Linked DNA regions of Homo sapiens: region 1 is linked to region 2. The links come from fine-mapping of genetic effects on plasma protein levels. A gene starts in region 2. The other region holds a variant in brackets. All regions are shown on one strand. Distances are from middle to middle.

Region 1 (12,198 bases), 34 kb after region 2:
GCAAGTTATAATTTGAGAAAAATAGCCCAAGTCAAATATTACAACTCATTTTTCATCTTCAAAAGCTCTCGTATGCTATTAGATGTGCTAAGCCAGAGGGATTTGGAATTAGGACCGCATCCTGGGGTCCCGGTGTTAGCCTGTTGAGTCACCCCCTCATGGTTCTCCTTCTTTTACCTCCTGTTTGTGCATCTCTGGTTCCTGCTTCTTCAGCCTTTGCACAAAAGCTTAGTTGGTCCTTCAGTGACTACTGGCTAAAAACAAACAGAAAAAGAAAAAAGAAACAAAAATGGTGTTCTTCTAGTTCTTCCATGAGAACTGTGAAGGAGTGGCCAGCCAAAAAGAAATGTCAAGCAGAGGCTAGTGTGTGGGCCAAGAAAGTCCAGGTCAGACAGAAACACTACAGTTGCTCACAGATACATACAAAATAAGTCCTGACATTTTTGTGAGGACCTTGGGTGATAAAAGGGAAACCCCCTAACACATTTTTCAGGCAGCTGATAATGTTTGACAGCTTTGAAGAGGAAACAGAACTACCAGATGTCAGTGGCTGAATCACAGGGAAAATACTGCATTCTGCAAAGCCTTACTCAAGCATCATGAAGTGTAGCCCAAAGTTGATAGAAATGCTGATAAATAATAAAATTTTATGAAAAAGTAAAATCTCGATACTTTTTCACAAGTCACTAGCTGTAACCAAGACAATGATGTTGGCTTTTTTGTATTTGATCATCTTTCATGAATTTTAGAATGCTTTCTTTATCAAACTCTAAAAAATCTTTAACAAAATTGCAAAGTGTCACAGCAGTGAAAATTTTCATAAACTTCACAGCTCTCAATTATATGACACAGTAGAAGTATCAGAAGTATTCTGCTGTGTCATTTTCTGTTTCTTTGAAGATTCTCTGCTGTACTTCATCATTTTTCCATATACAGTTAAAACACCAAGCAAATATTTGGCCTGAATCCTAAAAATGTTTAATTCTTCCAATTTTCTGTAGTTGCATTTTCAGCAATACAGAGCGTTCCTTCAATTCTTCCCTCCCCTTTTTTCGGTTTGAGATACACTTTAACACCTAAGAATGTGATCTTCTGTTCTTTATAACTAACATTTAATATAAACTAATGTTGAATTTATCAAAAGCAAGTTCATAATCTTTGAAAACATAAGACTTTTTAAATTATTGATGGGCTAAACCATTTACTAGTTTTTTAAATATTGAAGTATTCTTGCATTCCTGGAATATTCCAGACATTTGAGTGACAAAACAGTCAAAAATCTCTAACTCTGCAGAGTTTCTGGCATGTTTCACCACATAAAAAGTGTAGAAAATTATTCTCATTTTTTCTGCAGAAACTGTTCTACTCTTCACTGTTTCCATGGTGGGTTTTTTGTGTGTATGGCAGTTATATATATTATTTAGTTTCTAATCTTTCTTTTAAAAACTTTACTGAGGTATAATTTATATGCCATAAAATTCCTTCATTGTAAGTATACAATTCAATGATTTTTAGTAAATTTATAGGGTTGTGTGATGATTACCATAGTCCAGTTTTAGGACATTTTTATTACCCCAAAAAGTTCTCTCCAGCCGTTTTGCAATCAATCCCTGCTCTCACCCTCAGTCCTGGCAACCACTGTCTCTACAGAATTGCCTTTTCTGGATATTTCTTATGCACAGACTCATATAATTTGTTGTCTTTTGCATTCAGGTTCTTTCACTTAGCTGAATGTTTTTGAGGTTCTTTGTGTGGCATGAATCAGTCCTTTGCTCCTTGGTGTTGCCAAGTAGTATTGCGCTGTTTGGCTTTCCCACATTTTGTTTATCCAGTAACCTGTTTGTGGCTTCTGGATTGTTTTCAGTTTTGACCATCATCTATAATACTGCTAGAAACATTCACATTCAAAAACTGTTATGGACGTGTGCCTTCACATCCCCTGAATAGATTCCCAGGAGTGGAATTGCTGGGTGCTATGGCAAGCTTATGTGTAACTTTTTAAGACGCATCCAGTTAAGGGGTTAAGGGAGGGTAGCTACCCTCTCTGTTGAAGGAAAGTTCATTTTCTTCTTGTTTTTCTTCTTGTGTAGCTCCAGGTTAGGTGGACAGGCACCCTCTGTTCTCACTGGTATCGTGACCTGGTTGAGGAGCCAGCAGGACAGAGCTGTTACTTTTTGTCTGGCCTGACTTTGGGCACCCAGGGTAAACTGGAAATAACATGCCCCAGCCAGACCTCTGTGCGCACTTGGAAGGAGCTCTCAGGTCTCCATCTGTTCCCTGCCTCCATGCTGCTGCTGTTCCTCTCTAGGTGTTGTTAGTGCAGGATTTTCTTGGGCCCTTTCCGCTCCCTCTGGGGCAGGCTGTTCCATATGCATTGAGTTGTGAGACCAACAGCTTTCTTCAGTTTAGCCTTGCCTATCCTACATCTTGCAGAAATCCGTCTTCCCCCCAAATGGCATGCAGATAGAATCCTTCTTTACTTTTACTTTCATTTTAGATCTCCCCTTGTTATTATTGAGCTAGTCCCTTTGTCATTTTAATGGAAATTTGGAAATGGAAGCTCTTGCCATGAGGTCACCTAGAATTCTAGGTGGTCATTCCTTCCTGAGTTCCCTCACAGACCACCCTTGGGCTCCCTCCGGTTTCTGCTGCCCTTTCTCTCTCTCTGCCAGTAAGTGTTGGGGTAAAAGCTGACTTTACAGGAAATACTATCCATACTGGCAGCCTCAGTAAGTCCCTCAGTTCTTCCCATTCATCAGCTGATAAAGTGACAGTGCAGGGATATGGAGGCGGATCTGTCTGGGAGGGAATGTGTACGTAAGTGGTATAACATCTGTGTAGTGTCATTCCGCTGTGCTCTGAGGAGTAACAGGTCTGAAATGCAGACCTTGGAAAATAGACAAGTTGAAGTTTAGAGCAATAGTTGACATGTAAAAAAAAAAAAACCCAACAAGCCTATTGAATTTATTTTTAAGCCTAATAAAATATTTAAAAAGATCATTTATTATATCAACATTCCAAACACAACAGAGAAAATATAATGAACCCCCATGTAGACCCACTACTGAAGTTCAACAGAATATTTCGTCACATTGTTTTATCTATCCCTTTCTTTTTCTTTTATTCCCTTTTATGCTAAGATATTTTAAAACAAATCCCAGACACATTTTCCCCATGCTTAAGTATGCATCCTTAAAAATATGGAAATTTTATTTTCTAGCCACATTGTCCTGATCACGCCTAACAAAACTAATCAATAATTCATTGGTATCATCTATCCTTTATCCATGATCAAATTGTCTCAGTTTTTAATGAAATCTTTTTATCAGGTTGTAGAATAGGAGAAACATATTATGACTCGTTTCCTGGGCCCACCCCACTGCTAGCATTATTCATTGGTCACTTTAACTCTCAGTAGTGTTAAAGTTTAAAATCACTGTTCCCTAAGACCTGTAGAGGCCCCAGAAACTGACTGGAGTGACGTCTGTTAGGCTGTAATGGCTTGTAGCCTCCTCAAGGGCCAGTGCTTGATGGTAGTTGCCAGTACTTGAGCATTGCCCTGGAAGGGTCCTTCCTGTGAATTACTCAGGCCATATAATTCATCCATGCTTATGCAATACAAATATTTCAAGCATCCTAATGCACTTATTTATTTATGAATGCTAGTGACTAGTGAACCAAAACCTCTTACCTAAAATAAATGACTAGCTTTGGCAATGGAGGGGTCAGTACTTCGATTGCTCTTCCTAATGTAACACACCACTAGGGTGTTGGGCAGAGCTTACTGCACTAATTATCCTGCAGTCCTACCTGATGAGAATTGTTCTTCCTTACACTAACGCCTGGGAAAGCAGGTAGCTTGCATATGCAGTTAACCAGCTACATTGTCAAAGAATTTTCTACAGAGAAAATTTGCCCTCTGATTGCCAAATCTCCACTTTGCCTTGTGCTGAGGAAGAGGCAGCTCTGGGGCAGTGTTCTTCCGCAAGCTTCTTGTTATTACACGTGGCTTCCTGTTATGCAGAGACAGGCGGAGAGGGCTGGGTAAGGTGTTGCAACTGATGGAGACACACAGACCCACAAGAGGCAACTGCACTCTAAATTCCTAAGAAACACGAAAGCCACAAAACATGAACACTGGAGGGGTGGCCCTGGAGAGGCACCCTAGGTGAAACAAATTTGCTGGCGTGCAAAAAAACCTTGCAATATTTGTTGCTGGCTCAGGTTTCCAGAGCTGCTGATAAGAAAGAAGTAACAGAAAGCCAGTACTCCTCTCTCTCTCCCCTTCTCTCTCTCTCTCTCTCTTGTTCTCACTCTCTGTCATTCTCTCTCCCTCTCTCTTGTTCTCACTCTCTGTCATTCTCTCTCCCTCTCTCTTTTTCTCTCTCTCACACACACAGATAATTTCTCTCCCTCTGTCTCATATTGCTACCAAGACAGCATTTTTTACCTCTTCCTGCAGAACACATAGTTATTGGTGCCAAGCCCCTTTCCAAAGCAGATTCTTTTCCTTTAGGTTGACATAGTCACTTGTCAAACAATAAAGGGCATTTCTAGAATCCATAGAACATGGGAAAATGAAATCTGCCCAATTCCGGAGTATTGAGGCAGGCATTTAGGGAACAACTTTTAGATATTTCTATGAATTCGGTTATACAAATTTGTCTCAAGGGTGAGTGCCCTGGGAAGACCCGTGTGGTTTAATTTCAGGGTACAGAGAGAAGGCTCCTTTGCTGTCATCAGTCTCACAGTAAAGATGCCTTTTGAAGGGGCAGTGCTTTTCATACTAAAGTTAAAAACGAAACTCAAAAGAATGATGGGTGCTTTTCAATGGGGGGGTGGCGTTTGCTTTGAAGACAGAAAAGGGATACAGAAAGCGAGCCTGAAGTTTCTGAAGTCACATGTCCTAATTTCCTTCTGGGTGGAAACTGAGGGCCATCATCCCGCAGTCTGATAACAGGATAGGTGGGGGGTCTGCATGTATGTATGTGTGAATGTGGCAGGGGCGTTGCGTGTGTGTATGTGTGCGGGGTGTGGGCAGGGACGTATGAATCTGTTTATCATTTTCAGGTGGTAGCAATGCCAGGTCTGCTGTTTCAGAGAGCTCCCCAGTCGGCTCCTTCCTCAGCTGTGGTGTGGGCCTGACTGCCGGCCCACGGTAGCTTAGCTCACTCTCTCTCCCTCCCATGCCTCGGCCACGTGGGACCTTGCTCAGAATCCCTAGGTCTCTCCACATGAGCTTGGGTAGCAGCTGGTAAGACGTGGCAGGATTACCTAATATGTCCGTTTTCTTGTTGGGGTATCAGCACAGCCTCAGTGGTGGGCTTGAGGTTTCAGTACCATTTCTCTGTCACTGTGTTTTCGAGGCCTGCTGAGCCTTGCAGAGCATACACTGGCGGAAATAGCACAAAATTGTTTGTGCACAATCTAGAGGCAAAATGGGTGGGGCTGAGGCAGCTGCTTCACATGATAGGTTAGGAGTAGTGGCTTTGTTCCCAGCTCAGTGAAAGGTGGCATGGTCTCTCCTGTCCACTTCACTCTGGATTCTTTAACCCTGTGAATTACTAGACATGGATTCCATCTCCAATGTGGATGCCTCTCTTCACCACAAGAATACATGCTCCTTTCTGGGCTGTGGCTTAGGTATGGATATTGGGCTTTGAAATCAGATTTCTAGTTGTTAACTGGAGCAGATCATTTCACCTCTGTGAGCTTTGGTTCCTGGTCTGAAAAATGAGGGTGACAGTATGGTACTTACATAAAGAGCATGAGCATTAAATGACACAGCTCTATAAAGTGCTTGCACTGTGGCTGGCTCGTGGTAAGTACTCAATACATAAGTAACTTGATATTCATTATTGTTAGATCAGGGATTATATCTTCCATCGTCCACTCTGCTCAAGTGGATGCAGTGAACATATCCAGAAATCCCGCCAATAGGTAAATTGGCCAATATTTCTCGCAAATACAAAATGCCTGCATGGTGGCTCACATTTCGTTCTAAAACATTTATTTTATTAACTCAGCAAATATTTATCAAGATGCTTCAATTGCCAGATGCTTTTCTAGGAAGTGTGGAGCTTTACTAAAAATCCCAAGGAAAACAGCACCCTTTTCTGTCTTGCATCTCAGTTTATCCCCACAGCCTCAAGTTAGAAATGCTTCCCTCTGTGCTGGTTTCCTCTATGCCATCTTTTCTTTGGTTCCTGAACGTCTATGCAAATAACTTTTCTGGTCTGAGATTTTCACGTCACTCAAATCTTCTGGCTTTCACTTGCACCTCTTTTCTCCCCCTAGTCTCTTTCTTAATTCATAAGCCTTACTTATCAAAAGCAAAACTCTCGGGAAGCTTGAAGCTCTCAGTCCACCCTCACACTTTATCATGTCCAGAACTGGACTCACCTGCCTGTTCAAACTGGCCTTGTTCTCTGATTTCCTTTCTTGCTTCCATGAATGGGTCTCCCAGATCCATCAGGGCTGTGTCTGGCTGATCTCATATCCTCAGGACCCAAAATTGTTCTGGTGCATGTCAAGTCCTCAATCTTGAATGAATGAATGAATGAATGGGGAAGGCTACCTTACCAGAGCCACTCAAACCCCAGACCTCACAAAAATCTTTGTCTCCTGCTCCTCCTTGTTCAGCAGGGGGCTGAGTCCTCTCAGTATTAGCCTCTCATATTGTTTCCTCTTCCATCCTAATCCAGGCTTCTGGCTTTGCACCTGGAATATTGTGCAATGTCCAGCCAATCTCCCTCTATACCATCTCTCTCCCTCTTTTCATCCCTCCCCTCTGTAATATTCTCTTTCTTTTCTCTCATTTAGAATAAAATTGAGTCCATACTATAATAATAATGTTAATAATAATAGCTTTCATTTAATTTCTATGTTTTAAGAAGCAGGCACTGGCTGGGACCTGTCCACTTACCCTTACTAATCCCTATGGATTTATCACCCCATAAGATGCATGTTATTATCACAGCTTTACAGAGGAGGAAACTGGCCCTCAGAGATAGAATACGGCTTACCCAAGGCTGCGTATGTAGAAGCCTGTGCACTTCTGCTACTTTCTCCTTCCTTCTCTCTGTTAGGCACTGTGTTAGGTGCACG[A/G]TACAAGGATGAGCAAGGCCAAACATCAAGGGAGTACCCCTGTCTTCTTAGAGTGCAAGTGGAGAGGGAAGACAGGAAAAGAAAAAAGTACCAAGCAAGGCGACAAAGGCTACGATACACAGGTGTCTCCACTGACAAGGGTCCAGAGCCAGGGAGCAACTAAGTCTGGCAGGGCCAGGAAGGCTTCTCACAGGAAGTGGGGCCTGAAGGGATTCTTGAAGGATAAGTAAGAGTTTTCCAAGAGGTCAAATTGGATGTAGGTGGGGGTGGGTAGGGAGGACATTCCAGCAGAGAGAATAGCATACTGTCCTGGATAAAGAGCAGGATGGGCATGGAGAAAGAGCAGGAAATGCAGCAGAAAAAGCCGCAAAGGACTCCAACTCCATGGCAGTTTAGACTTCATCGTTTAGGAGGGAGATGCTGGGGGTCATCAGAGGCTTTTAGGCAGGAAGGTAACATGATCAGAATTCTGTTTGAGAAGGCTCACGTCATAAGCAATGCTGTCAGTGCTGAATATAAGGAACAGGCAGCCTTCTGTGTTGATTGGTTGGCTGGGAGAATGTCACTCAAGTACATCAGAGAGACCAGCGGAGGTAAAGCAGGTTTGGGCATGTGTGTCAGTGTTAGCCAGAGGAATGGTAGAGGTGAGAAGGGGAAAGGTGGTAAGTTTGATGAGGTGGTAAGCATGATGAGCTTGACATTCTCATGGAGGTGTGTTAGGAAGCTGGATGGATGGGTCTACAGCTCAGAAAGGAGGGCTGGGGGAAGCCATGCAAATTCTACTCCCTTTTCAAATCCATTTAAACATGGTTCCCAAACTAATGCACAGCTCATATCAACATACTGGGAAAATACCTGAAATTGTTTCCCCAGCTCTGAAAGAACTATTCACACCTCACCCACACATTTACAGCCATCCAAAGTGGAATCTAGACTGAGTCAGAATTGAGAGCAGATTATTTTGAGGGTTCAGCGGCAGAAGATGAAGAAAGGAAGTGATAACGTTTCTCAGCTGACTTCTCTGTTCGTACTTCCTTCTTTAATTTTCCTTTGCCCCATCTTGGGGCAAAAAGCAGCTAACTTCTACAGCAGAAACAACATCCCTAGGCATGTGGCACTTCTTCTATTTCTCTTCTTTCCTTTCCAGTACTCTCTCACACCTGCAGACTAAAATTCAGCACCAACAGTCCAGTCATACAACTATATTTTATCATGGGCCTCCCTTGCTCAGGAATATGAAATAGCTCCCTACTACCTCTCTAATCAAGTTGAATGCCTCACTCTGTCATCTAAAGCATCTTCTTCTCTGGGCCCTCCAGCTTGATTTCTCTATTTGATAAAATGCTGCCTCACTTTTATGGCCCATTTCCACCCCACGCTTTGTAATGATAGCACTCAGGTTCTGGGAAGTGCTGACCAGCAGAACTTTCTGTGATAGTGGAAATGTTCTCTATCTGTTGTCCAGTACTGTAGCCACGAAACACACAGGCTTACTGAGTACTTAAAACATGGCTAGTATGACGGAGGAACTCAATTGTAACTTAATGTAACCTATTTAATTCATTTAAATGTACACAGCCACTTATGGTTAGTGGCTACTGTACTAGACAATGCAGTGCTAGGGGCTTGCTCATCCTCTCTCTACTAGAATAATGTGAGGTTTCTAACCTTATTGAGGCCCTCATTTCTCACTTGCCCCAAGGTGTTCTGTAAACACTGAGCAACTGCCTTCCCACCTTTCCCCGCCCTGGTCTGCCTGCAGCCCCCTCTCCAACCCTCCGCCTGGTTCAGACCTGCTTCCTGAAGGGCTGGGAATGTGCACTCAGGGTACAATGACTGGCTCACAAGTGAAGCTTATCATGGTTATTATTTTCATTATGAGAAACAGCTCCATTAATAGTAACAGATCTCTTTGTTTACTTTATCCGGAACAAGTCCCACCCACAAAGAAGAGAGACTGTTCAAAGAACCTAACAAGGAAAGTTGGTCAAAACCATGACAAACTCAAGGCCCCCAGACTTTCTTCTCTGCTATTTTAATGATCTCATGCTAGGCCTGGCTGGTGAGCAACACTGTGGGCTATGGAGGGAGATGGCTCTGCACTTGGGATGGAAAGTGCCCCTGCTTAATCCCCAGCTCATCTGAGACCCCAGCTGTCTCCCTACCCTCAGGGTTTGGGCCTAATTCCAGCAGTGTGGAACTTTGTACTGAGCTATCCCCACTCTCTAACTTATAACAGGTGGCCCAGTGCTCATAGTTACACAAACTATGGTGGGATGTTAACAGGCACTAAAGAAACACTGGTTGGATGTAGAGTGAGTGGTATCCTTTATGGATATAAAACATGGCCAGGCAGAGCCTTGTTCATATGTAAGCAGACAAGCTGGTTGCCTTTCTGCTACAAGGGCATCAAAGGTCCCCTTGGCCAGGTCTGGGAACATAAGATCCTCGCACTTACTCCTGCCTTTGCCAGGTCATTCTGCAACGCACACGTGCTCCTAGGAGGGTTTTTTGTTTGTTTGTTTTTCTTATAGTTGTTTTTGCCACAACAAAGCATGAAAAATTTCACAGAACTGTGAACAAAATACCAGCAACTAATTTCTTCTATGCTGAGTGAATTCTTTCCAATCTGTAGTATCTTTTTCTCTTCTGCTAACCGCTTCCCACTTCTTCAATGCTGTTGGAGACCTTCAGTTTCCCCTAACCCCCACTGTGGTCCTAATGATGTCTGTGGGCCTCTGGGGGTGGCCCAAGGGGCCTGAGTCCTTCTAGCCACCATGTGGCACTTCCCCTCACTCCTGAGTTGGCTCCATTTGATGGCATCACCTCAGAAGCCAAGTAAAGGTTCCTCATATGCCACTGCTAGAAGGGGGTCCTCCCTATCATGTCTGATGTTGCTACAGTTGGATGGTCACAAAAGCCACACCGGGATAGACTTCACTGAGGCTACTGAAGTGGGGGAGAATGCCTCTGCATCTGCTGGAATGCCTCACTCTTCGATTTTCTCCAAAAGTTTTGTGTGTAAACTATCTTTTTCATTTTTGCCTACTCTCTGCCCTCTTTCTAGGACAGATAAGAGTCCTTGCAAGGTATAGTCTCTGACTTAGAGAGATACAGAACTGTATACAGTCCTTCAAATTCCCTCCTCCCCATTGTATTCTGCCAAAATCTTTCTGTAGTTCTTTGGGGATCATTTCCACAGCCTTAGAGCAAGTGATCAGCCCACACTGGCTGCTTTTTAATTACAGATAGAAGGCCTTGAAGATAGCAAGTAACTGAGGAGCAAGATCTCAGATAAAGTTCTTAACTGGGATGCTAAGACACACTGATATAAAGCAAATCCTTTGTAAGCAAGCTACCAAATTGTCATCAAAATATCAAATTATCTTTTCTACATCTGAGCATAAGCACTCTTGTGATGATGTCTGTCCAATGGGAAGCTGAATCAAATATGTCTTGCAACGTGGGATACAACCTAGTATGACCTCACCAGGTCCCTGGTGGGAGGTAAGAAGTGACTGCCAGATGGAACCAGGTATAAGGGCATATTATGGGAACTCAGACCCCTTGTGAGGGTCAAGGGAGCCCAGTTACAGTGGAGTCCTCTTCAGACAGCAATATTGGACCGAAGGATGAAATGTGGAAATAGGGTGATAACTCCAGATACAATTGGAGATAGCTACAGAAAGACTCTGTAATGCCATATAAAACTCTGGTGTTTGAAAGTATGCCATGATTATAAATAAAGATTGAGAATCACAGGCGTAGAAGGAGATAGAAATAAGAGAATCAGAAAGAATGAAATTCTGTCCTTTGCAGCAACATGGATGGAGCTGGAGGCTATTTATCCTAACTAACTCAGAAACAGAAAATCAAATATCCCATGTTCTTATTTATAAGTGGGAGCTAAACAATAGGTATACGTGGACATAAATATGGGAATAATAGGCACTGAGGACTCCAAAAGTGGGGAAGGCAGGAGGAAGGTGAGGATTGAAAAATTACCTGTTGGTTACAATGTTCAATATTTGGGTGATGGATACACTAGAAACCCAATCCCCACCATTAGGCGATGGACTCATGTAACAAACCAGCACGTATACCCCCTGAATATATTTTTCAAAATCAATGAGGAGATGTTGGCAATTTAATGCATTAAAGATAGGAAAGAAGAAAGAGAGGAAGCTTGATGATGGAATGACATTTTGAAGTGAAGAGGGAAGTTGAAGAAGCTCTCAGTGATGACTCCCATCCTTTTAGTAGGAAGTAAAGTCACCTGTTGATAAAAACAGCAAGAGTAACATATACTTACCTTTGACCAGGGACTGTGCTAAGTGGTTTGCGTATGTTTGTTTAATCTCTACAACAATTCCATAAACAAGGAAGTATTATTATCCTAATTTAGCAAGTGAGGAAGCCGAGGCTCAGAGAAGCATAATTTATCCACCGTCAAAAAGTCAGGAAAGGTAGAACTAGTCTCCAATCAGGTGAAATGAAATGGGTCGGGAGCAGAGTTGATAGCTTAGTTTAGCTGTGTCATGAGTGGTCCAGGGATGGACAAAAGCTGAAAAAGGGGGTTGGAAGATGGAGCCTTCCTCCAGCAACACTTGGCAGAAGGAGAGGGGTGCAGACACTGGGTATTAGCAAGTGTGGAGGGCAGTGCAGGCCAAGGAGACAAGGGCATCATTGAACTGGCTGGGAAATAAGATGGGGCTCAGAAGGAAGTGTTGAATGGGGACCAGGGTGATCGATGGAGCGCTGTGGAGGGAAGGAAAGGAGAGCATGGTCCTGGGTGGGGGTTACCATGGAGACAAGATGTGGAGGTACAGGCTGGACTTACTCGAATGACAGGCAGAACTCCTGTGTGAAAACAAAAGCCAAATATACCATGCTGAGTGCATGCAGGTTCAAGGGGCTCTGGCTTCAAATCCTGCTTCTGAGTTCTATTGGCAGTGACGATCTAACTGTAAAGGTCATAGGAAGGCAGCAGCAGTGAGCGCCTTGTACAGCATAAAGGGCTGGGATACTCTCCGTGGGCAGGGGACAGAATGGCACTGGGCAGGAGAATTCAGAAGGTGCCAACTCCCTGCA
Region 2 (12,198 bases):
AGTCATCAGGGAAATGCAAATCAAAACCCCAATGAGATAATAACATTTCATCCTAACCATCCACTAGAATGGCTAAAATAAAAAAAGACTGATGATAACAAGTGTTGGGGAATACGTGGAAAAAAATGAAACCCTCATACATTTCTGGTGGAAATGTAAAATGGTGCAGCTACTTTGTAAAACATTTTGGTGGTTCCTCAAAAATTTAAACATAAAGTCACCATATAACCCAGAAATTCCACTGCTATGCCCATACCCAAGAGAGATGATTTTTTAATAAAAAAAAAACTTGCTTATTCAATTGAAAATAATTTTTAATAAAAGCAATGATAATGCCATTTTGTCAGGGGAAGATAATAGTTTATAAAACTTGTGCACAAGGCCAGGCATGGTGGCTCACACCTGTAATTCCAGCACTTTGAGAGGCTGAGGCAGGAGAATCACTTGAGCCCAGAAGTTTGAGACCAGCCTGGGCAACATAGTGAGACTCCAATCTTTATAAGTAATATAAGTAAACATAAGTAAATAAATAAATAAATAAAATTTAAAAAACTTGTGCACAAATGTTCATAGCATCATTTTTCATAATAGCCAAAACCTGGAAACAATCCAAATGTCCATCCACTAAATGAACAGATAAACAAAATTTGATCTATCCACACAATGGAATATTATTTGGCCATGAAAAGAAATAAAGTTCTGATACATGCTGCAATATGAATGAAACTTCAAAACATGCAAAGGGAAAGAAGCCGGTCACAAAAGACCACATATTACAGTATATGACTTCATTATGTGAAATGTCCAGAACAGACACCTTTGTCCATACACAAATCTATAGAGACATAAAGTGGTTGCCTAGTGCTGGGGAAAATGAGGAGGGTCTGCTAATGGGTATGGAGTTTCTTTTGTGGAAGATGAAAGTGTTCTACAGTTGATTGTGGCAATGGTTGCACAACTCTGAATGTACTAGATCACTGAATTGTACACTTTGATGGGTGAATTGCATGGTATGTGAATTATGTATCAATACAGCTCATAAAAAACAAGCAGTCAGGTGAAGAACAAACATGAGAAACTGTCTTCAAATGCAGATAACAGTAACAGAGATGACAAAATGAAAGACAAGGAAGTGACAGAGTGGAGAGCTAACATGCAGATAACTGATGCTCCTGAAGAAGATCCTAGAGCCAGTGGGCTGCAAATCAGAAATAAAGATATAAGAAACTCCCCCTGCACTGATTCCTTGCAAAATCACTCAGACACATCGACACCTAGACACATCCAACCCTTACAAATGCCCAATAAACACATTAAAAAATAACTTTAGTTCCACTATTTAATAAAAAAAGTATTTGCTTATTCAACTGAAAATGATTTATAATAAAAGCAATGATAATGCCAACTGTTAGTGAGGCTCTGAGGGAACTGGGCCCTACATATATTGTTAATGGAAACATAAACCGTAGAACTTTTTCATGTTTGTTCTTCACCTGACTGCTTGTTTTTTTATGAGCTTTATTGATACATAATTCACATACCATGCAATTCACCCATCAAAGTGTACAATTCAGTGATTTAGCAATTTGAGAGCACATAGCAAACCTTAGTATAAGTATATTCTTATTCACTTTCCCAGCATTTCTATCTCTAAGAATTCCCCCTGAGGGGGGAAAAGGACTAGATTTATCCAGATATTTAGCTATAAGAATATTATGAAAATTTATGCATATCTCCAATGCTCAATGACACAGGGATTTGTTAAATTAATTTTGCTCTCATCATATAATTAAAAATCATGAGGCCACTGATGATGTTTTGGAAAAATGCTTAATGACAGATACTTTTTCATGACTTTTTTTTGTTAAAGGAAGATAACGGTTTATAAGACAGCATATGCACCATTTAAAAAATTTACAATACATGCATACATACATATATTACATGTACACATGAGTAGAAGGTGAGGGAGAAGTAGGAAACCAAGAATGGGAAAAGTTCTTATTACACATTAAGTGGTAACAATGATTTTTATTTTCTTTTTGCTTTTAAAACACTTGTATGGTGATTATGCACGGACTTCTGTAATGGTAAAAATAATAACGAAAGATGTTTTAAGAGTTCTCCAGGCTGGACACAGTGGCTTATGTCTGTAATCTCAGCACTTTGGAGGCCAAGGCAGAAGGATCACTTGAACCCAGGAGCTTGAGACCAGCCTGGGCAACATAGTGAGACCCCCATCTCTACAGAACGAGTTTTTAAAAAATTAGCCGGGCATGGTAGTGAAAGCTTGCAGTCCCACCTGCTCCATAGGCCAAGGCGTGAGGATTGCTTAAGCCCAGGAGGTTGAGGCTGCAGTGAGCCATGATTGTGTCACTGCACTCCAGCCTGGTTGACAGAGTGAGACCCTGTCTCAGAAAAAAAAAAAAAAAAAGTTCTCCTCAGGCTAGAGTCCAACCCTTCAGCAAGTGCATCAGACCCTGGCCCCAGCAGCTCCTGCAACTTCAACTAGTGGGTATGGGGCATCTTTGGGGGCCATACATCATTTCTGATACTTCCCTAAATGGGGGCCGTATTTGTGTTTTCACAGCGATCTGCCATTTCATTTGCCTGGAGCGTTCTCCTCTCACTCCCCCACCTGGCTTCCTGACTATTGTCTCATGGGTCGCCTTTCCTGGGATGCCACCCAAGCAGAGGGAACCATTTCCTGCTCCCACTTTACCCTGTGCATGCACTATTTTTGTATCTTGCACGGCAAGTTTACACTTCTCTCTCATGACTCATTGGAGGATTAGGCTGGGTTCTTAATCATCCTTCTTGTTTAATCAGCATCCAACGCAGGCCTGTACAAATGTTTATGGAGTAAACGAGTGAATGAATGAATGAGTCTGTTTGAGCTCTAGGCTCACATGAGCCTTGAGTGCAGAAGATCTGCACTCAAGTGCCCCTTGGGTCCCTAAATCAACATGCCCCAAACTAAGCCCACCGTTTTCTCCTTGTTCCTCATTACCAATCCTCACTGTTTTTGTGCGTGCCCCATCTCTGTGATTGGAACTACACCCTTCCAGTGACGAGCTGGGATCTTGGGTGCCTCTTTTTTCTGCTGTAATAATTCTCCTGGGGCTATCAATTCTGTCACTCACATGACTCCTGTGTTGTTTTCCCTTCTTTCCATGCCCATGCTGCCGACCTCTCTCCCTCACTCTTCCTCTCTCTTAGATATCTGCCACAGCCTCCTCACCCCTATCCTGTTGAAAACTCCCTAGTGACCTCCGTTTTCCCCAGGATACAGTCAGAACTCTTTGTCAAGGTTTACCTGCCCTGTGTGATCCAGCCCTGCTCAGCCCTGACTATCTCTCCAGCTTCGTTTCTCCTCAGCCCCACCCCTTTCATCCTTCTTAGGAGCGACCTGAAGAACTTTCTTCTCTCCGTGCCTCATTCATATTGTTGGTTTTGTCTGGAATCCTTTTTCCAACCCCCTTGCCTCCCTAACTCATTTGTCAAGCCTTACTTTAAAAGACACTTCTTCCAGGAACCCTTCCTTCACTCCCCAAGTCCAGTTAGGCCCCTCGCATATACACCCCCCCTAGCTCCCTACACTTTCCCCAACATAGCTCTCTCACACTGTATTTAATCGTTCACTTAATTGTTCTTCTCCCCCAACAGACTGTAAGAGACAACAGCCGGTGTCAGGGCGGTGAGGTGGGGAAGCAGAAAACACGTCTGCTTGTTCACGAACGTTCTTCCAATGTCCAGCAAAAATTTGGTCCTTAATAAATCCGCTTATCATTCAACAAGCCAACAGATGGAACAATGTTTGCTTGCGCTACTGCAGATGCTAATTCAAACTTTGGGACCAGGCAAGGCATTTGGCTCTTCATTTTATGAAGATCAGAGAGAGGGAGCGCAGTACCCAGTTGACTGACCGAGAGAGAGCTCTGTGGTGGGGGAAGGCTGCTGTGTTGGGCCCTTGTGGGGAGTGTGCTTTCCATCTGATTGCCTTTCCGCATCTGCACAACTAACTTCCCCCATGGGTCACGAGTTTTTCCAAGACTGACAGGAACCTACCCTGAAAAGTAAAGGAAGTTCCCTGCGTGTTTCTTAATGACACCTTCAAAATATTTTCAACATTCCTCAGTTTAAAGGTCCCAGGACTGAAATTTTAGATGGTGTCGAATTCCCCCGTGGAGATGCTGCTGGGCCGGGCCAGACAGCTACCTCTCTCACACCCGCTTAATTAAGTTGGGATACGAAAAAGAGCAGTGGTGTTTGGGTCAGGCAGGCAGTAGTGCAATGTCTCCAAGTAGCTGAGTCAAGTTCAGCGGAATCCAGCTCCCTGGGGAGGCTGGAGGGTAGCTGGGTAGACTGGGTGAGTGTGGTGGATTGGAGTCTTGATCAGCAAACACTCCGGCCCTTCTTCCACCCCTCCGGCCCTTCTCCCTCCCCACTGCTGCTGAGGACTGGGTGTACTTCCGGCCTCACTGACTTTGAGCTTGGCCATGTGACCTGTGTTGGCCAATGGAATGTGAGCAGACAGGGTGTGCGCAGAGGCGTTAAATGCGCTTGCAAGGTTCTTCTCTCTTGTGCTCCTTTCATTCCTGAAGACAGGAGTATACACCAGGTCACCACTGTTCCTTCAGCCTCGTTCTCTGGATATACAGTTTGGATACATTTAGTTTGAGATGGCTACTATAGATCTAAGCAGAGATCCATGTGATTTGGAGTTCAGGGGGTCTGGGCTGGAAATACACATTGGAATCATCTGCAAATATGTGACATTTAAAGCCTTGAGACAGATGAGCTCACCAAGGTGTGAGTGTGGATGGAAAAAGAGTCCAGTCGAGTCTTGGTTTCCTTCAATATTTAGAGGTCAGAGAGATGAGAAGGAATCAGCAAGAAAACAGACACGGAAAAGCCAGAAAGGCAGGCAGACAGCCAGGCCAACCATGGGCCGTGGGAGCCCCATGGACAGAGGGCTCAGAGTTGGAGAGAGCTATCAAATGTGTCCGACACTGCTGATGGGCCCGTGAGATGAAGATGAAGCCCTGACCTGTGAGTTTAGTGACAGGGAAGTCGTAGGTATCCTTGATGAGAATATATTTTGTGGAGTCATAGGGGCAAAAACATCAACCAAGGGATTCGGGAGAGAATAAGAGGAGAGATATTTGCAAGTTAGACAATTCTTACTAAAGCTTGGTTCAGAAATGAAGGAGAGAAATGGGACTCTAGCCCAAGGGGGTGGTGGCATCCAGAGAGATTTTTTATGGGATAAAAAATAGTAAGTTTGAACGCTGACAGGAAGGATCAAAGAGAGAGAAGAAATTGATGATGCAATAGGGATGGGAGAGTGTTAACAGCCAGTTCACCCATTGTACCAAGAATAAGGTCAGGGATACAGCTTGCATGCAGGTAGGTGAGCAGATAGAGTGAGGGAAGCTTGTGGACATTCTCTTTCAGTTACATTGATTTTCTCAATGAAACGGGAACCCAGGTCGTCAGTAAGAGTAAGCAAGTGGCAGGTGAAGAAGAAAGTATGACAGAGTCATCTAGGAGAGTTGGAGAATGAATGGAGCAAGGCGTGCAGCTTAGATGCTGGCTAGCAGTGACTGTTCTGAGCACTTTGTACTGGCTTTTCTACTAAAGCCTCACAACAGCCTATGAAGTAAGCCCTATTATTTGCCCCATCTACAGATAAGAATTGAAGCACAAAGTGGTCAAGAAACTTGTCCATAGTCCCACAGCAGGAAAGCCAGGATTTGACTACCAGTGATCTGTTTCCAGGGCCCAAATGCTTAAGCACTAGGTTAGGCTGACCCAGTTAAACATGAAAGCTTGTCACAGAACTGAACTAAATAGAATAGAATAAAGGTTGAATTAATGTGTGTGGTGCAACCACTCTGTGTCAAGCTCTGCACTAGATTCCTCTGCAAAAACCCTTTGAGTTGTGGTTATTATCAACCCCATTTTACTGATGAGGACATTAAGGTCTGGAAAGATTCAGTTGCTTGTTCAAAAGTTGAAGAGCTAGCAAATGGAAGCCCACACCATGTATACAGCCCACACACCCTGATTCTAAAGCCCACACCCTGTGTACAATGCCAAAGAACCCTTAGGATATGTGAGTGGGTCGACCTAGCTTAAGTTGCTTCATTAAGCCAAATACATCAAAACCCTCCCTACATCAGGCTGAGATCACTTGCAAACTTTATCCTGAGCACCTGGAGAGCTTGCGACATGGTCCTTACAGCAGGAAGAATTTAAAAGAAGATAACTTTGGGGGAATGCTTGTTGTTTTTCTGACCATTTTTGGATGCTTGATCCGTTAGGTGAGGAAGAGGAGAGCTTAGAGTTGAAGTAGATGATGGGAGTTTCGACATTTTCTTCTAATTAAAACTGTAATCTTTTATAACAGAAGCAACCATTCTGGTTTTTCAAGCATTTCCAAAAACCATTTTCTCAAGAAAGAGTGCTCATAATGTATCATCTTCACTGAACAGCCACCCACTTCCTCAAATGCAAGGAAGCAGACAGTTAAAAAAGAAACACACACACACACACACAAAACCAAGAGGCAGCAGTTGTTTATCACGACCTCAACTCAGTAAGGCCTGAGATTCTTTCGAAAAGGAGCTTTGCTTCCCATGACGCAGAGGGAAGTGTCAACTGGGATATTTCTGGTAAAACTGAAAGCAAGAAAAGCAGGGTGCTAGCCCCTGTGGGACTGAGGGTGGAGGCTGGGGGAGTTTGGGTGCCATCCTCCAGTGACAGATGGATGGACCTTTCATCTAAGAGAAAGGAGGAGACACGTTGGCAAATCAGCCTCAAGCCTAAGATTGCTTGTGAAGCAATCATAAGGAGGAACAAAAACAGACACAAAAACAGAGGGAAAGAGTGAAAAGACAAGAAGGGCGCAAACTGTGACAGACTCACCGCTTCACTAACTACTCACTTAAACTGGAAGCAAAATGTCCCTAAAATTGCCAAGGAACTGGGATTTCAACCTGAAAGTGGAGGCTGCGAAAATAGGTATGGTTGGTGTCTTTTCGTTGCCTCTGTGATTCTTACGTATACTCGAGCACCATTTGCATGTTGGTCTGCAGGGAGCATAGTCTACTTAAAAATGGATCTCGCAGCAAATCTGAGTTTGAGGGACCATTTGCATTTAAGTTGGCATGCCAGGTCCAAGTTCTAAAATGCTGGGAGGGGGTTCTCTTTCATTTGGACAAAACAGTGGGATGGCACTCCTTGGTGTGCAGGATCTGGGGTACTTCGGATGATTTAAGGCTACAGACTACACACAAAACTGTGAGTTTTTAGCATATTCCATTTCCTTCCTGTTTGGAAACTCATCCATATTTTGAATGGTTCTGAACAGGAGCACAAAGACTAGAGTCTTTTGAAGTGCTCAATCTGTAAGTAAATTCAATGGGTGTTCTGTTTTGTGAGCCCAGGAGTCAAGGTGTATTAAAAGGTAGTAGCAAAAGGTAGACAACAAAAACAAGACAGGAACATAAAAACGTACTAAAGTATAATAAAGACCTTACTTAATAAAAATATAATTAAAGGAACAGAATGGGAGGGAATTCTTAGATGAGTTGGAAAAGAGATGTATTTTTTATTATTTTAAGGGAGACTGGCATATTTTCTGAGATAGTCTGGCCTTTAATCCATACCCTGTCCTTCTAATGATGATAGTGATACATTAAGTTTAATCTATATATTCGTTATGAAGTTCTTTACATAGATTTCTTCTATTGCTAAATTGGTCACAGTAATTCACATCAGAGCAATCGGGCTGAAAACTATTGCCTACATTTATGTATCTCACCCATACATGAGATAACTTCCTTGATATTAGATATAGATAAGTATTAAGGTGTTTCTAACAGCTTGGAGGAATTTTGCTTGGAAAAAGGTTTAGATTTGAACCTCTAATGGGGTTAAGTGTGCTACTAAAATAAGTGCTCCATTGAAAAGTCACAAGCGGAGCATTAATGATGTAGGTCTGAGAAAGGGTTTGAAAGAAAACAGAGTAATCAGAGAAGCCATTTATCTTGATAACTAGGGGAGATTAGCGTTCCCTAATCAAGCTGTGAATGATTGTATGCTGAGGTCAGTTCAGAGAAAAGGTAATGTTCATACCTCTTACAAAAGCAAGAGATTTTCCTCCTAACTATCATTGATACAAATGTACTTGGCTAATGCTCAATCTATGTCATACAAATTATATGGTTCTGTTCCTTTGAAAGTGTCCTGCTTCTACATAAATAAGGTCATTCTGCCTTCTCTCCACCTATGTTTGAACACAGGTTATTAGGGTCTTACTCTCCTTTGGTTTAAAAAACAAGAAAGTTGAGACAATTAATAGTTAAATGATTTTTTTCACAGATATAGGAAATTACCACACTAGAGCTCAAGACTGCATATACTCAGGTCTGGGATTTGATTGAGTGAATTTCATGATTTTTACCAATGTTTCTTAAAGCATGGTCCCATAGATAACCTATATCAGACTCACATCAAGTGCTGGCTAAAAATGCAGATTTCTGGGCACCATCCTTACAAAATCAGAATCTCTGGAGGAAGGCCCAGGATCCTGCATTTTGACAAGCACCCCCCACTTTCATCCTCACCTGAGGAAGAATTCCTGCTGTAGGTACTGTGGTCTATGTTCACTAGCCCCAGCAGACAGTTTTCACCCATTTAGTATAGGGCACAGTGCTTGTTCTTAACTGGGCACACAATAAATATTTGTTGGCTGAATGAATGCTTCAGCCAACAAAAACAAGCAGATGATGTTATTTAGTATTACTTAATGAAAAAATAATAATAAGGACATAATGAAATACAGAGGAGCCCTTGTCATTATCCATGCTATCTATAAGTTTGTCACCCTGAAGGACTGGACTACAGTAGGATGCATTTATAAGTGTCACATGAACTAGAATTCAGATCATAATCTGAGTCCTCTGATGGGGGAGAGCCCTTGACTCAGTCACAGGACTTCCAGTCCCCTCTCCAGCATCCTGTGTCCAGGTGTAACTGTAGGAACTGGCTTACCAATATATCAAAGAAACTTACCTCTATTGGGAAGACCTGTGGAACTGGGAGTTATGTCAGGAAAGCTGACAATCTGTGGTTTTAACGTTTTCTCAACCTAGATACCATTGACATTTGGGGTTGGATAGTTTTTTGTTGTGGGGCCTGTCCTGTGAATTATAGGATGTTTAGCAGAATCCTTGGCCTCTACCTTCTAGGTGATGGTAACACCCCCCTACCACTACCAGTTGTGACAAATAAAACTGTCTTTACATATAGCCAAGTGTTCCTTGGGGATGGGGGTGAGGGTAATATCTTCTCTAATTGAGAACTCCTGGAGTAGATGATCACCAAAAGGGTGGAATATAAGGTCATTTGGGACTAGAACCCAAATATTAACTCATGATTCACTCTGTAGCTCAATTTTTTGGAGGCTTTTATTGAGATCTGTCCTCAGGGAGCCAGGCCATAGCTTAGGAAGGACACTAGAATGGGCCCTTGGTGAAATAGCAAGACACTGACCCAGAATGTGACCCAGGAAAGGGGCCCTAGCTTTTTTTGATGAGCTATGCTTCCAGTTTCCCCAGAATCTTGTGAGCTGGAGTGAAAGTGAAAGTCTCTGAGAGCGAGGGGAGGGACTCTCCACTGTACTTCCATCTCAGAGCTGAAGAGGGTCTTGCTGGATGGCAGACTCACCTGAGTCCACTACCATGAGTCTGACAGATTTTCATGCAGTGATGAAGAAAAGTCACAGAACTTCCTGAATCTGACCTATTGATCCTGGCAGGAATAGGGGTTGGAAGAAAAAGGAAAATGCAGAACAAACAGTCTTGACTTGAGGTGGAGCCAAGAGCACACACTTCTTCCTGTGATCCTTTATCATTTTCAATTTTAGAATCATGACAGCCTTTCACTGCCTTCACGCAGTTACTCAAATATTTTGCCTTTTTAACTGAATTGTCATCACTGGAGGACAGGTCCAGACTTTCTGGACCTCCAGCCCCAGGTTACAGGGCTTTCTTGAAAGAGTTACATGGCTTCCCAATGACCAGGCCAGTCTACTTGAGCACATTTTGTACCTTATTTGAACACTGAAATGCTGGTTCCCCAGTTTCAGGAGAATCCTGAAACTATATAGCCCATGGTGAACTGATTTGTGTTTGTTTGATGTTCAGCTTTCTGAACATCAGAAAGTGGTGAGTGCTTTCTTTACAATTCATTACCAAACTTACTATATGCTAACCAGACCAGCCTGGGTTATGGACTGAATGTGGTCTGTTTGCTGTGCCCAAAGTATTTGCTTTCCATGAGTAGCCTCCGGTCCCTGATAGATAAAGGTCCCCGATAGATAAAGGTCCCCACACATGCAAGTAGAGTCACTGCTAAAAATACAAAAAATTAGCTGGGCATGGTGGCGGGCACCTGTAATCCCAGCTACTTGGGAGGCTGAGGCAGGATAATTGCTTGAATCCGGGAGGCGGAGGTTGTAGTGAGCCACGATCATGCCACTGCACTCCAGCTTGGGCGACAGAGCAAGACTCTGTCTCAAGAAAAAAAAAAAAAAAAGAATATGAACATGGCCTTCTGTAGACAGTGAACAGCTACACAAGGGAGCTGTTCCTTCCAGGGCCCACTCTATTTTTATGCAGAGGTTACATTGCCATTGGTTATTTAAGTAAAAATGTCTGTCCGTAATGTTGCTGTTGACTTAACATTTAGGCATAAATTAAATTCTCTCCACGAAGTGCATGCTTCCTGTTGCCCAGGCCAACAGCCTTCTGGCCATTTGAGGAAAAAGGACTGATGTCACCTCTGGGCCTTCTGCAGCAGCAGCAGAGTGGGGACCAACCTAAGTGGTGATGGGAAAACAGGACCTGGTTTTATATCCACTCATGCACAAAATTCCCCCTGTACATGCCAGATGAGGTCAGCTTAGATTCTGTACTTTGTCTGAGACTGTGCACTTGGATTGGCAGAGGCTAGCTTGATGGTTCTTATTGCCTATGTGTCTGAAACTAGGCCAGGGTTAAGATGCCCAATGGCCCTGGCGTGGGTATACATCACTATAAGTCACTTCATTAATGGTAGTGCTGCCATCTCCCTGTCTCTCACCTCACAGTTATGAAGCATCTTCATGTAGCATCCAATGGGAGAACTCTGTGGAGACTCCACCAGCTGGAATGTGATCCTTTTGAGTAAGGCCCACTATGGGGGTGTTGGAAAGATGCTGGGACCAATTGAGAGAAGTAAGTTGATGAAAATGGTCCTATCACACACAAGGCAGCTTGAGGAAAGAATCTGGCATGAAGGTGCACCCCAGTCGAGTGGTCTGAACTTGTGTTAAGATACAAGACATGGGAGGGAGTGAAGAGCAGAAGCAAAGTCCCACTGGTGGCCACAGCAATTGAGACCAAATAGTACCGGAAGAGCATGACGGAGAGCCACAGCGAGGCACAGGCAGATTGTGGGGATTCTGTCACAGAGGATGGCATGGAAATTTTGTAGAGTCCCCAGACAGGAACTGAGATACAAAAGTTACAAAGAGAGAAAATAATTGACATTTTTTGTGTTATGCTTTACTCATCATCCTTTTTCTCTTTGAAAGCTTGTTTAAAAACCAAAAGTCACTTTGCAAAGAAAAAAAAAATGATACCCATAGGTCTGGCAGACCTAGAATATAACTTTGTCTTCTTTGAGGGACTGCAGTGCTTCCTCATTTCTAGTAAGACAGGAGTGCAACTTACTGTGTTCTCTTTGTCTTGGCTGCCAGGAAGCTGAGCTAAATATGAAATATGAAGACAGTCCTGTAGGGCATACAGTTCAGTGGGGGCAGAGACAAGGAAACAACTGCAAAGCGGTGAGACAGGTGCTGTGATGATGAGAACAGCTATGGGAGTCCCAGATGGTGCCTAAGAGGAATTCTGGCCCCACCACCCCTGTTCCCATCACTGCCATTCACCTTCTTTAAGATCTAGGTGCAGATGTTCTTGAGGGGGCCCCAGACTCGCTGTCTTTCTCACAGTGATTTTCCTGCACATTGTATCTACTTTTTTGGAGAAACAGAAGGCTTTATACTATGTATAGACCCTCTGCATGAAGGAATTAAATGGAAAGTCTTTATGATCTGGCCCTTCTTACCTGCCCACCTCTCTCTTGCCA

Alleles and levels. Alleles are on the strand shown, and positions count from the first base shown. The strength of an association depends on the size of the effect and on how common the allele is.
As copies of G replace A in region 1, the plasma level of the protein whose gene starts at base 6,577 in region 2 goes up (moderate association).

Evidence for each region. PIP is the chance, under the fine-mapping model, that this variant and not a neighbour inherited with it causes the effect. Protein levels are from antibody-based Olink assays in UK Biobank. Linkage for the fine-mapping came from a reference panel and not from the study's own genotypes, which makes the PIPs less certain.
Region 1: its variant is fine-mapped to the plasma level of the ARHGAP25 protein (UK Biobank, PIP above 0.99).

Annotation. Positions count from the first base shown.
Region 1 is chr2:68,762,429-68,774,626 of GRCh38, forward strand. All of the region lies in intron 1 of ARHGAP25 (Rho GTPase activating protein 25), which reads left to right. LOC105374790 (a long non-coding RNA gene) reads right to left here and starts at 242. Exons shown (of 3, transcript XR_940225.3): 1 at 178-242. RefSeq lists an enhancer at 9,003-9,052. The variant A/G (reference allele first, on the strand shown) is at 7,108.
Region 2 is chr2:68,728,235-68,740,432 of GRCh38, forward strand. It overlaps ARHGAP25 (Rho GTPase activating protein 25), which reads left to right and starts at 6,577. Exons shown (of 11, transcript NM_001007231.3): 1 at 6,577-7,026. The coding sequence starts at 6,966. RefSeq lists an enhancer at 11,342-11,571.